Regions from separate parts of the Homo sapiens genome. Here all the other regions are linked to region 1. Evidence: fine-mapped QTL for protein levels in blood plasma. Region 1 holds a variant in brackets. A gene starts in each other region. All regions are shown on their forward strands.

Region 1 (4,102 bases):
GCTAAGTGACAGTCCTTTGTTGTCCCTGTCTTGTAATTAGTTAGGGTAGTATGTTGGTTATATTACGTGGAATTTATTGCAGGATGGTAAGGGAGCATGTGACAAAATGGGGCAATAGTTCTGTAAGGCTGAGAGAAGCTGGGGGTGTACCCAGTGGCTAGGCTACTCAGAGGGGACTGTCATGCTGTCAGTAGTGTAGTGGGAGCCAAGCAGGCTTTACTCACCGGCCTGTTAACAGCTGTGCGAGTCATGCCTTTCGCTTGTGTTAGCTCACCTTGTGAAAAAATGAGCTGAATTACAGATGACAACTAAGGCATGGAGAGCCGAACCCTTTGTCCAGGGTTGTATAGGAAGTGGCAGGGTCAGGGCTGAATCTTAAAACCTAGAGGGTAGGGCCCGGCGTGGTGGCTCATGCCTAAAATCCCAGCACTTTGGGAGGCCAAGGCAGGCGGATCACCTGATGTCAGAAGTTCGAGACCAACCTGGCCAACCAACATGGTGAAACCCCAGCTCTACTAAAAATACAAAAATTAGCTGGGTGTGGTGGCAGGTGCCTGTAATCCCAGCTACTGCGGAAGCTGAGGCAGGAGAATCGCTTGAACTCAGGAGGTGGAGGTTGCAGTGAGCCGAGATTGCGCCACTGCACTCCAGCATGGGCAACAGAGTGAGAATCTGTCTCAAAAAACAAAAACAAAAACAAAAAACCCTAGAGGATAAAAGAACTATAACATCTGGGATAAAGTTAGCTGTTGAAATAAATACAAGTCCTACCGTTGGGGTAGTGTCAGAGCTGGCCTACGTCTTTGACTTTGAGATTCCTAGCAGCCAGAGCAAAGAAAGAAATAGATTATTCCCACTGGAGCCACAGTGGCCATAACAAACAGAAGCCATCTGTTTAGATGCTGGGAATGGAGAAGACTTGCTCCCCAGAAATAGACGCTGCAGGATGTGGTGGGTGACAGTCTACTGTTCAAACCACAAATACCTGAAATGATCTGGCCACTTTGATCACCCAACCACAGTAGAGCCTAAGCAGGTCCAGGGAGCAGCTGTTGCTGGCCTGGCTTGACTTTTGAGGGAGGTGGAATAGCGGGCATGTGAGAGGAGGGAACCTAAAGCCCCCACAGCTGCTGACACAGCCCCCAGGTTTGAGCTTGTCTCCCCTCTCACCCATCCCCCCATATAGCTTAATCTGATGGGCATCTGGTGGTCCTTCCCTGCAGTGGCCAGAGCCTGAGCTGTCCAGGCTGAGGTTTCGACTGAAGCAGGGGTTGTCCTGCGCCCATGTGCCCACACGCTGCAACCTGGCTGGAGCCTCTGGCATAGGACACCCATACCACCAGGTAGCTGTGGCGGACCCCGGCTCTGATACTTGGCAGGCTTGGGTTGAGATTGTGGCTCTAGGCCTGGGCGGCTCTCAAGGGCTGCTGTGGGGAGTTGGGGAAGAACCCCTGGGTTGTGCTCAGCCAGCAGGCAGGTGGCAGCCAGGCTGGCTGTGGGTGAGGAGGGGAATCCTCTTTTCACCACTGCCTGCCTGCTCAGCAGTTCTTCAGCTGCTGGGGGTGGAGCTGGCTTGCAGGGGCCAGAGTCAGAGTGAAACCGGCAGCTCTGCTGGTTAATCTCAGCACTGACACTGGGGACTAGGCCTGGAGCGGAACTGAAAGGGAGACTAGGCCCGTTCCCCTCCAGGCCTGGCCTATATCCTCCCAGTGATCCTTAAGGCCTGCAGCTAGGGGGAAGGGTGGGGGCCAGGCAGGGCCAACTGGAAAAGTAGCAGAAGGAAGTGGCCACTCGCACCTTACCCATCTTGCAGACAGGAAATGAAGGCTCTGCAGGGCTGGCTGGCTGTAAAAATGGGCAAGAGCGCAGAGGCCCCACTCCCTGCACACTGCGCTGTGTCCAGTGCCCGTGTGGATGCCATGTGAGGCCTCACTCTGCCTGCCTCATCCTGGCTGCTGGACCTCTGGGAGTAGGAGGTGAAAATGCCCTGGCTGGTGCTGGTCACTTCAGGCTGGAATTTTCTAGTCATGCAGCTTTCTAGTGAGAGGCCGCAGTGAGCTGTGGCCAGTGTTGGTCATTCCTGCAGTCATTACTCTCCCCCAGCCTGTTGTGTCCGCCAACCAGAGCAGGCCCGGGAGCTCCCAGGAGACCTGCTGGAAGGGCCCAGGTGGCCATCCTGCTCCTGCCAGGCTGCCCTCTTACCTCACTGTTCATTGACTCTCCTGCAGGTGGGGAAGGGGGATAAAGGAGGTGGCCAGGCCACTGGGTCATGATCCTTCCGACAGAGGTACCTGGCAGCTCTGTGTGTAAAGCAAGGTTAAGCATCTGGTTTTGGGGGTCAATTCAACAGCACTAGCAGCTCCAGTCCAAGGTATGCCCTTTTGGGCTGAGGTGGAGGTCAGATCACCTGAAGCCACAGTTGCTAGAACATCCTTTGGGCTGCCTCTGCTTTCCATCCCCCTGCTCCCAGTTTGTTAGGGGTTGTAGTATTTTCCAGGAACACCTGAATGGAGGGGGCCCAGTGGGGCCACTTCTGTCCATTCCTTATCTCATCTCTTTCTCCCCTTTTCTTCTTTCGGCCATCTTTTCAGTCTTATCACAAGAGGAAGGGGAGGGGCAAACCCCCTCCTGAGCAGATTCCCAACCGGAAGCAGCTGGCTCCTTGGCTGCAGAGTGCCCCAGCACAGGAAGCATCTGCAGGGTCAGTTGAGACCTGGGAGCAGGTTTCCTGCTGGCAAAGGAACAGTGGCTAACTCCTATCCACCCTGCAGCCCTATGTGCCGGGTGTCCTGGGAAGGTCCAGGGCCAAGATTTTGTGGTTTTACAGTGGCTATAACTTAGGCTAGCCATGCTAGGCTCTGCCCCTTTGGGCTTGGTGTGATGAGACCGTCAGCAGCTGCTATCACCTGGCTGGGCAGGGAGCTGTTTGCTCACCAGTGGGAAGAGAAACGGATGTCAGACACATGGCAGAGTGGGAATGTCTCCAAGTCCAGGTCCAATGGGCTGGGAGGGCTGGCCTTCTGCCAGCACATGCTTCTTGGGATCTCAGTGTGAATGGTGTTCAGGAGGCTAGGGGAAGGCACCCTGGACCTCACTACAGGCTCAGAGCCTGCCCAGCAACACCATGGATACTCTCTCTAAAAGGGGGACTCCTGGGGAGACTATAGACAAACTCAGGCCTGGCTGGAAGAAAGAGCATCAGGAACAAGCCTTGAGTACCCCAACTTGGTCTCGTAGAGTTCAAGGCCCAAGCTACAAGCAGCTTGCTCCAGCATCCAGGAGGTCCGG[T/C]GGTGCACACGGCTTGAGATGCCTGACAACCTTTACACCTTTGTGCTGAAGGTGAGTGACAAGGCTTTTCACACCCTGGGGCAATACAAATACATACACATACAGCAGACCCAACCCTGTTCCCTTCCTCCCTGCCAGGTGAAGGACCGGACAGACATCATCTTTGAGGTGGGAGACGAGCAGCAGCTGAATTCATGGATGGCTGAGCTCTCGGAGTGCACAGGCCGAGGGTGAGGTCCTGGGCCCTCGTCCCTGGCACCACCTTTGCTGCTACCACCCCTGACCTGCCCAGATCCTTAACCTCAGCCTCTTCTCCAGCAGGCTGGAGAGCACAGAAGCAGAGATGCATATTCCCTCAGCCCTAGAGCCTAGCACGTCCAGCTCCCCAAGGGGCAGCACAGATTCCCTTAACCAAGGTGGGTAAACCAATAGCTAGGCCATTGTCTTCTGGGTACGCTGGAACCCAGACTCAGCCCAGGACATAAGGTAGCCCCCTGCGACCACCATCACCCATCTTATCTAACAGGTGCTTCTCCTGGGGGGCTGCTGGACCCGGCCTGCCAGAAGACGGACCATTTCCTGTCCTGCTACCCCTGGTTCCACGGCCCCATCTCCAGAGTGAAAGCAGCTCAGCTGGTTCAGCTGCAGGGCCCTGATGCTCATGGAGTGTTCCTGGTGCGGCAGAGCGAGACGCGGCGTGGGGAATACGTGCTCACTTTCAACTTTCAGGGGATAGCCAAGGTATGGGGTGGGGTGGGGTGGGGTGGGGCAGGCAGGACCGTGCCACCCCTCTCCACTGGAGTTCAGGGTCCTA
Region 2 (4,102 bases), not on the chromosome of region 1:
TCAGACAATCTAGGGCAAGAAAACTTAGAAAATTCTCTCTGTCCATTCCTGGCCTCAGCAATAGGCACATCAAATTCCATCAGACTATGTAGAACTTCTCACTTAAAGATTTCCAGGAAGAACTTTACTGTCAGAAAATGCTTAGCCAGGCATGGTGGTGCATGCCTGTAATCCCAGCTACATGGGAGGCTGAGGCAGGAAAATCACTTGAACCTGGGAGGCGGAGGTTGCAGTGAGCCAAGATTACACTCCAGCCTGGGCAACAGAGCAAGACTCCTTCTCAATAAAAAAAAGAAAAAAGAAAGAAAAGAAACAAGAAAATGAAAATGCTTCCTAGTATTTTGCCTGACTCTGTGTTTCACCGTGAACTCCCATGTTCTGTCCACAGAGGAGATGAGAATGTGTGACCTCTTTTTCTGTTGAGGGAACATTGAATAATTTCCAGTTTTTATCTATTACAAATGATGCTGCTATGAGCACTCTTGTATATGTTTTTTCAGGCTTATATGTATACATTTCTGTTTGACATTTACCCAGGAGTGAAAATGCTGAGCCATCAGGGATCCCTGTGTTTAGTTTTGGTAGATTCTGCCAAGCCATTTTCTAGTGACTGTACCAATTTATATTCCCACTAGTGGTGTACAAGAGTTCTAGTTTCTTCACATCCTCACCAATACTCAGTAGAGGATTGCATGGGGAGGGTCACGGGCTCCCCCAGACCCAGCTCAGTCTCAGCTGGTATCACTCCCTTATTCTTATGGAAGGTGTAGTGGTATCTTATTATGGTTTAAATTTGCATTTCCACGGTGATTTATGATGTCTAGCTCCTTTTGCTATGTTGATTTGACACGTGGATATCTGCTTCTGTGAAGTACCTATCCAATTATTTTTGCCCATTTTTCTAGTATGTTGTCTGTCCTTTTCTTACTGACTTGCAGAAATTCTTATATTTCTTCTGTGGGCCCTTTGTCAGCTACATGTATTTAAACTATCTCATCACACCACAGCTTGCCTGTTCCTTCTCTTAATGGTGTCTTTTAAGGAATAGTTCTCAAAATCATACTGACAGTCTTAAAAGCCTCAGATGCCGAAGCTCCATCTGTGTTCTACTCCAGACTCATCGATGTCTGATTCCCTCCTGAACTGAGGATCCTGTGAAGCATCCTCAGGGCTCCACTTCTCCATCGCATTGCAGCATCCACACACATTTACCTCTGGAGACAGGAGCTCCTTGGAAGCTGGGAGGTCACTCGGTGGTCAAGGGGTAGATGATCTTAGTTTTACAGTGCTGCGCTGTCTCCCAGGCTGAATGACGCTGAAGCCAAGCAAATTCGGGCAGTCTCTGGACCTTTCTAATGGAGGTGTCCCATAACCATGTTCCATCCTAGTTCCCTGGCATAGGCTTGTTGAAGCTGCAGAAAATGTCAGGGATTTATTAGTGATTTACCGACTCCTTCATACTTAGTGTTCAGGAAAATTTATTCATGTAATACTTCTTCAACCAAAGAGGAAATATCAATTAGAGCTTTGTAAGTTTCTTTTCCACTTCCTATTTTGGCTATCAAGCTATAGCACCACCCAGCTCAGGCCACCCACCCACCTTCGGTCCTGAGGCCTGGTTGCTCTCTGCCGGCTTCGCCCTGACCTGTTTCTGACCTGTGTTCCCTCCGCTGTGCCAGAACAGGCCCCATGCTGCTCTGGACGGCTGTGCTGCTCTTTGGTAAGTCAACGAGCATGGGCATCCCCTCTTGGAGCACTAAGGACCGTAAGTCATCCCTGAGACACCAAGTTCCTCATCTTACCTTTCCCAATTCCAGTGGGTTTGTGGCTGGAGCTCAAGACAGGTGTGTGCACCTGGGCATGCTTGGGAGAGATGGGCACTGGGGTAGGAGAAACTCCTCAGTGTTTCCTACCCCGTAGTCCTGGGTCCTTGGCAGCGCAGCCCTTTGATATGTCAGAGATAAATTAGGGAGGCAGAAAATCACATTACAAAGTCCCCTAACTTCCCAATGACATTTCTACCTTGTGACATCAGGTTAAAATACTAATCAGAGCTGTCTCAAAAGGAAATGGAGGTTGCAGGAGGGAAGGAGGCTGCTGGGGGCAACAGGGAAGGAGTCAGGGAAATGAGGGGAAACAGTCCCAGGCATTTTGCTCAGCAATGGGAGGTGGAATTTTACAGGGTGACATATTTTTATGGAGCCTCAGCATTTTCTTAGAACCAGGTAACAATGGCCAGACCTCTCACCTGGTTGAAAGGCCTGTGCTCTGAGTAACCAAAGCCCTTTTCAAATTGACTGTCTCTCTTCCGCCTACATCTTCTCTCTGTTGGGAGCTGTTTCAGATCCATGGGGCTGGTTTGAAGAATCAACTCCATTGTCTGATCCATGTCTCTCTCTCTCTTCTCTCCATTTCTTCTCATGCAGGCTACTTGTAACTAAGAGAGCTGGTCTAAGGGTAGAGGATTGCACGCAGAGGGTCACTGGGCTCCCCCAGACCCAGCTCAGTCTCAGCCAGTGTCACCCCCCTTATACCTAAAAGAAATAATTTGGCATATATTTTGTTTCACTTTACAGTTTCCAAGTGGACCTACTTTTTGTTTAATTCTTGGTCCCAATAGCTTGCTTGCTATTTGTATTCCTTGAACTAGAAAAGCAAAACTGTTCCTAAATATAACCTCTTCCTGGACAGAGTTTGTGAGAATTTGACCCTGTGAGGAAAATGCCCCTTCCACTCAATGTTCCTTCTCCAGCATAGCATGCTACTCGTGTGTTCTATGAATGGCCATTTGGACAAATGAAAAGGTCTAATGCTCACACTGAGGCGGGGACAGGATAGCCTAATGCCTGGATATACTCCAGGCAGAAGACTCCCAGGGGCAAATGGCACTACCGGCACTACCTTGTAAAAGGAACAGCCCTTGGACTTGTCTAGATACAGTCTGAGAGTGTTCCAGCTTGGAACCCAGGACGAGGATGACAGACAGCAAATGAGGAGAGGAAGGGAATCAGTGACCGGCTGACTGGTGCACAGTGTAATGGAGAATCCAGCACCAGCAAATTTGGTCCCACTTGATGCTCAGGGACCCTGGAAAAACAGCCTAAAACACAGACACTGGGGCTGGGTGTGTAGCAACATTTATCTTACCATAAGTGTAGAGCTGCTATTTCCTCTCTCAAGAGCAGGGTGTGGTCATAATAAATTGGTGGCTATTACTATTATTGGCTGTCAGGGCTCCGGGAGGAAAGGAATCCTGACATTGAGCATGTGGGGACCTGGCTGAATGTGAAATATGTATTTAAAGTTTGGGAAATTAGGCTTAATTTTCTTCTGAGCTGAACATTAGCCAACTTCCCTCCTACCACTGGAGGCTGCTCCCCGCATTCTCACACAGCGTCCATAGGAGGTGTCATGGGGTCCCATACAGCCCTCCCAGCAATGTGACTGCTGCAGCTTGGCACTGCAGCCTGTTCCACAGTGCTAGAGCTCAGTGGTGAGAGAGTTCTTCATGTTGAGCCGAAATCTGCCTCCATGATCCCTCTAGTTTCCATTTCTGTCCTATAAAGTAACTCAGAATAAGTCTCCCCCTTCTTTTAAGCTTAGCCCACCAAGTATTTTGTGTCTTTCCTCTGTTGCATCTTTCCCAGATAAATATCTCCCGATCCCTCAGAAACTTTAAGAGGAAATTATCCTGCTCCTAGAGTTGGCAGGGGCTCCTGCCTTCATTTTTCGGAATTCTATTACGCAACTTGGTTTGACCATAGCTCTTGGCCACTTCATGATACTGTCACCTCATCTTCAGCCTATAGCTAATGGAGGTCCCTGGGCCCTCATTGCAGGAACTGCTGTAAGCAGGTGTCACCCCCTGTGTATGTTCCCAGTTGGCTGCTGTTTTGATTGCAGAAACCAATTTTGTAATCCCACCTCCAAGATCTTGCAGTACCATGGGGAGCAAGTCATTGAGATTTGGGGACAGGAGCTCATTTTAAGTGCATCTATGCTTCCTGAGTGCCTTCTGTCTTGTTTTTGGCTTCAGTAGTCTCAACCCTGTTTGTTTAGCACTTTGTAGCTGCACAATTGTTTTCCAGTGAGGTGGGGAAGG
Region 3 (4,102 bases), not on the chromosome of region 1:
TCACGCCTGTAATCCCAACACTTTGGGAGGCCAAGGCGGGTGGATCACTTGAGGTCAGGAGTTCGAGACCAGCCTAACCAACATGGTAAAACCCCATCTCTACTAAAAATACGAAAAAAAAAAAAAAATAGCCAGGCATGCTGGCACACCTGTAATCCCAGCTACTTGGGAGGCTGAGGCAGAAGAATCACTTGAATCTGGGAGGCAGAGGTTGCAGTGAGCCAAGATCGCGCCACTGCACTCCAGCCTGAGTGACAGAGCGAGACTCTGTCTCAAAAAAAAAAACAAAAAATCTGTTCTTGCCAGGCACGGTGGCTCATGCTTTTAATCCCAGCAACTCAGACGGCCAAGGCAGGAGGATCACTTGAGCCCAGGAGTTGAGGCTGCAGTGAGCTATGATCATGCCACCACACTCCAGCCTAGGCAACAGACTGAGACCCCAACTCAAAAAAAATAAAAAACCTTCCTTTCTCACAGAAAACAAACTTCCGGATGGGTATTTTTTTTCTTGGGTGTTTTAAAACGATAAATTATTTAGAAGAGGGAAACAGGGTAAGCACACTTGCTGCTTGTGGGTGGAAGTTCTGCAGGAGAGGCTGGCAAGAGCTGATGCATGCAGGTTCACAGTGGTATCCGGGCTCCATGTTGGCGCCCATAGCTGTGCCTGCTGGCTTTTCTGCCCACTTCAGACAGAGGTCCCAAACCACTCCCACTCCCAACACGACTCTCACATCTGCTCACTACCAAATTCTCTCATTTCCAGGTGTCAGAAAAAAAGCAGCCATACCTGTCCTGGTCTCACTGTGCCAATGCATTTCATAACATCTCACCCAAAGTCTGCCTTCTCCACTTACATGCTGAAACTCGGGGCCAAGTGTCCATGAGCCACTCCCTGCTCTTCCTGTACCAGCCTAGCAGTCCTGGACAAGTCACTTTCTTCCCCAAGACCTTTTCTCCAATCTGTCCCACCAGGATCTTCTGAAGCATGAGGCAAAGCCGTGCTGACCTCCCTCTTCCTCAGACGTGCCCAGTCCAAGCTCATTCCTACACAAGAGCCCTCGTATCTACTGTTCCCTGTGCCTGGAAAGCTGGTCCCGATCCTGTGTCTGATCCTTTTCCTAGGTCTCGGCTCGGACAGGCATCTGGGACCCTCTTCAGGGGGGTTGTTTCAGCCCACCTGACTTACAGCATCCCCCTACCTGGGTCCCACTGTAACATATCATCTTGTTCTGTTTTCCTCACAGTACTTATCACTTCTCACTTCTTGAAATTATTTTTTTGTTTTCTTTCTTTTTTTTTCTTTTTTCTTTTTTCTTTTTTTTTTTTTTTTGAAACAGAGTCTCGCTCTGTCACCCATGCTGGAAGGCAGTAGTGTGATTACAGGTCACTGCAGCCTCCAACTCCTGGGCTCAAGTGATCCTCATGCCTCAGCCTCCAGCCTCCCAAGTAGCTGGGACCATAGGCACATGCCACCATACCTGGCTAATTTTTGTACTTTTTGTAGAGACAGGGTTTCCACATGTTACCCAAGCTGGTCTCGAATCCCTGAGCTCAAGCAATCAGCCTCCCAAAGTGCTGGGATTACAGGAATGAGCCTCTTTCCCTGGCCTCCCTTCATTTTTAATAAAAATTGTATGCACCAACTTAAGGTGTCTCCTGCCCTCTGGCTCTGCCCACATCTCAGTCCCTCCTTTCCTCTACGTCCCTGCCAGTCTTATCTCCTCTTGACCTTTCCGTCCCTCAGCAACTTCTACTATTTCCTTCTGCCCCAAATGCCTAGAACCACCACTCCCTCTCTGCCCAGCAAACTCCCTCTTCCCTCCTTTCAAAGTCCTCCAGCCTCACCTCTTCCCTGACGCCTGCCCTTGCTCAGAACACCTCCACGCAGGTGACAGATCACCCAGTCCAGGATCAGGCAGTCGCCTGCTCTCCTGAGCAGCCCATGTTCCTCCTCTGCTTTTCCCTGGCCGGCGGGGCCTACAGTCTGTCCATTTCACATGATCAGCCCCTGGGGGTCAGGAATTCTGCCTTGCACTGGCTTCATTATGAAGGTCATGCCCTGTATTCCTGCCTTGGCAACGGAAATGCTAGGTGAATGGTGGGTATGTGGATGAAACGCACAAGGCTCATGCCATTAAGGACACCTTCTGGCCGGGTCCCTTCTTCCCTCTCTCAGCCACCTCCTCCTGCTTGCTAAGCTTCCCCAAGAAGACAGACCCAGGCCCGCTCACCTGAGAGCCAGAAGAGGAGCAGGTAGAGTGTCAGCAGGGGCATCTTCTCTTCAGACAGGTCCCCGTTCCCCTCAGTGGAGCCTGGCAGCAGGAACAAACTACAGACTCCCAGCCTTCTGCTGGTACTCACTCTCGCCCTTGAACTTCCTCCTTCAGTCACTTCCCATGGGTGAAAGAGACTAAAAGAGGAAGGAGGTGGTTGGTTGGGCACCGTGGCTCAGGCCTGTAATCCTGGCACTTTGGGAGGCCAAGGCGGGCGGATCACGAGATCAGGAGTTCAAGATCAGCCTGGCCAACATAGTGAAACCCCGTCTCTACTAGAAATACAAAAATTAGCCAGGCGTGGTGGCGCACACCTGTAGTCCCAGCTACTCAGGAGGCTGAGACAGAAGAATCGCTTGAACCTAGTAGGCGGAGGTTGTAGTGAGCCGAGATCGTGCCACTTGCACTCCAGCCTGGGTGACAGAACAAGACTCTGTCTCAAACAAAAACAAAAAAAAAAAAAAAAAGAGGAAGGAGGTGGAAAGGGTGAAATTTCGAGGCAGTTGACAATGCAAGGGGTCACAGGAATCATCAGCTTCTGAGAAGTACCTCTCTGTACACAGCCACCGTGGGTTCTCTAAAAAGAGAACTTCGTGGCTCCTCTGTCATGTGGAAACCTGCAGACAGATCCACTGGGTCTGGCCAGCCCTTATCCAATCCTCCAAACCTGGTGGGTTGGCTGGGGGCAGGGGCACGCGGCTCCACCAGAGGGGTCCTGGAGAGCCACGGCTGATAGACACGATGTCCTAAACCTGGAGCTTCAGGTGTAGCCAGATGCTTGGGAGCCCAGAAGGCCAGAAGTTCAAGAGGATTGAGGGGCACTTGTGGCCAAAGTCAGAAAGCCAGAGGAGAGATTCCAGACCAAAGGTTGGAAGGCAGCTATGAGGAGATTGGGTATCCAACCCCAGACTACAAGGCCAGGTACGGTGGCTCACACCTGTAATCTCAGCACTTTAGGAGGCTGAGGCAGGAAGATCACTTGAGGCCAGGAGTTCAAGACCAGCCTGGGCAACATGGCAAGGCTTCATCTCCACAAAAAAAAAAAAAAAAAAAAAAAAAAAAAGTCAGGCATGGTGGCTCATGCCTGTAATCCCAACACTTTGGGAGGCCAAGGTAGGCAGATCACTCCAGGTCAGGAGTTAGAGACCGGCCTGGCCAAAATGGTGAAACCCCATCTCTACTAAAAAATACAAAAATTAGCTGGGCGTGGTAGCATTCACCTGTAATCCCAGTGACTCGGGAGGCCGAGGTAGGAGAATCACTTGAACCCAGGCGGCAGAGGTTGCAGTGAACCCAGATCGCACCACTGAACTCCAACCTAGGCAACAGAGCAAGACTCTGTCTCAAAAATAATAACAATAATAATAATAATTAGTTCTGCAGAGTCATGCATGCCTGTAGTCCAAGCAATCTGGGAAGCTAAGGCCTGAGGATTACCTGAGCCCAAGAGGTCGAAACTGCAGTGAGCTATGATTGAGCCACTGTTCACTGTACTCCAGCCTGGGCAACAGAGCAGACGCTGTCTCTTTAAACACACACACACACACACACACACACACACACACACACGCACGCACAGAGAGGTTCAGAGAGAAGGGAGATGCAAGCAGGGAACTACTGGCCCACTGACAAGAGGCGCTTTGTCCTGAGAACACGAAGGAAGCTCCTACTGCTGTACCCCAGCCCACCAGGTGAGATCCCAGGGATACCTACATCTGGAATCTTCCAGAAACCTGTCCATTGTACCAGGGGGTCTACCTGAGGAAACCAGTTCATTGCTCAGGACTATTATCCCCTCGCTCCACCCCTCACCTTATAACTATTTGTTG

Which allele goes with the higher level. Alleles are on the strand shown, and positions count from the first base shown. The strength of an association depends on the size of the effect and on how common the allele is.
For the plasma level of the protein whose gene starts at base 1,625 in region 2, T is the high allele of the variant in region 1 and C is the other (moderate association).
For the plasma level of the protein whose gene starts at base 2,331 in region 3, C is the low allele of the variant in region 1 and T is the other (moderate association).

What was found. A credible set is the group of variants that fine-mapping cannot tell apart. PIP is the posterior inclusion probability: the model's chance that the variant is causal. The UK Biobank Pharma Proteomics Project read protein levels with antibody pairs (Olink). The fine-mapping took linkage between variants from a reference panel, not from the people measured, so its PIPs are less certain.
Region 2: FCRL6 starts here. The variant in region 1 is the best candidate, but not a certain one, in a credible set for the plasma level of the FCRL6 protein (UK Biobank, PIP 0.53).
Region 3: it holds the start of CD300LF, and the variant in region 1 is the best candidate, but not a certain one, in a credible set for the plasma level of the CD300LF protein (UK Biobank, PIP 0.58).

Annotation. Positions count from the first base shown.
Region 1 is chr12:111,443,516-111,447,617 of GRCh38, forward strand. It overlaps SH2B3 (SH2B adaptor protein 3), which reads left to right. Exons shown (of 8, transcript NM_005475.3): 3 at 3,238-3,339; 4 at 3,427-3,518; 5 at 3,610-3,704; 6 at 3,815-4,029. It overlaps LOC124903019 (a long non-coding RNA gene), which reads right to left and starts at 1,230. Exons shown (of 2, transcript XR_007063462.1): 1 at 1-1,230. RefSeq lists enhancers at 750-869, 1,620-1,889. The variant T/C (reference allele first, on the strand shown) is at 3,289.
Region 2 is chr1:159,800,736-159,804,837 of GRCh38, forward strand. It overlaps FCRL6 (Fc receptor like 6), which reads left to right and starts at 1,625. Exons shown (of 10, transcript NM_001004310.3): 1 at 1,625-1,720. The coding sequence starts at 1,690. It overlaps LOC105371464 (a long non-coding RNA gene), which reads right to left. Exons shown (of 3, transcript XR_922195.2): 1 at 1,803-4,102; 2 at 1,213-1,412.
Region 3 is chr17:74,710,593-74,714,694 of GRCh38, forward strand. CD300LF (CD300 molecule like family member f) reads right to left here and starts at 2,331. Exons shown (of 7, transcript NM_139018.5): 1 at 2,232-2,331. The coding sequence starts at 2,274. It also overlaps a transcript of RAB37 not described here.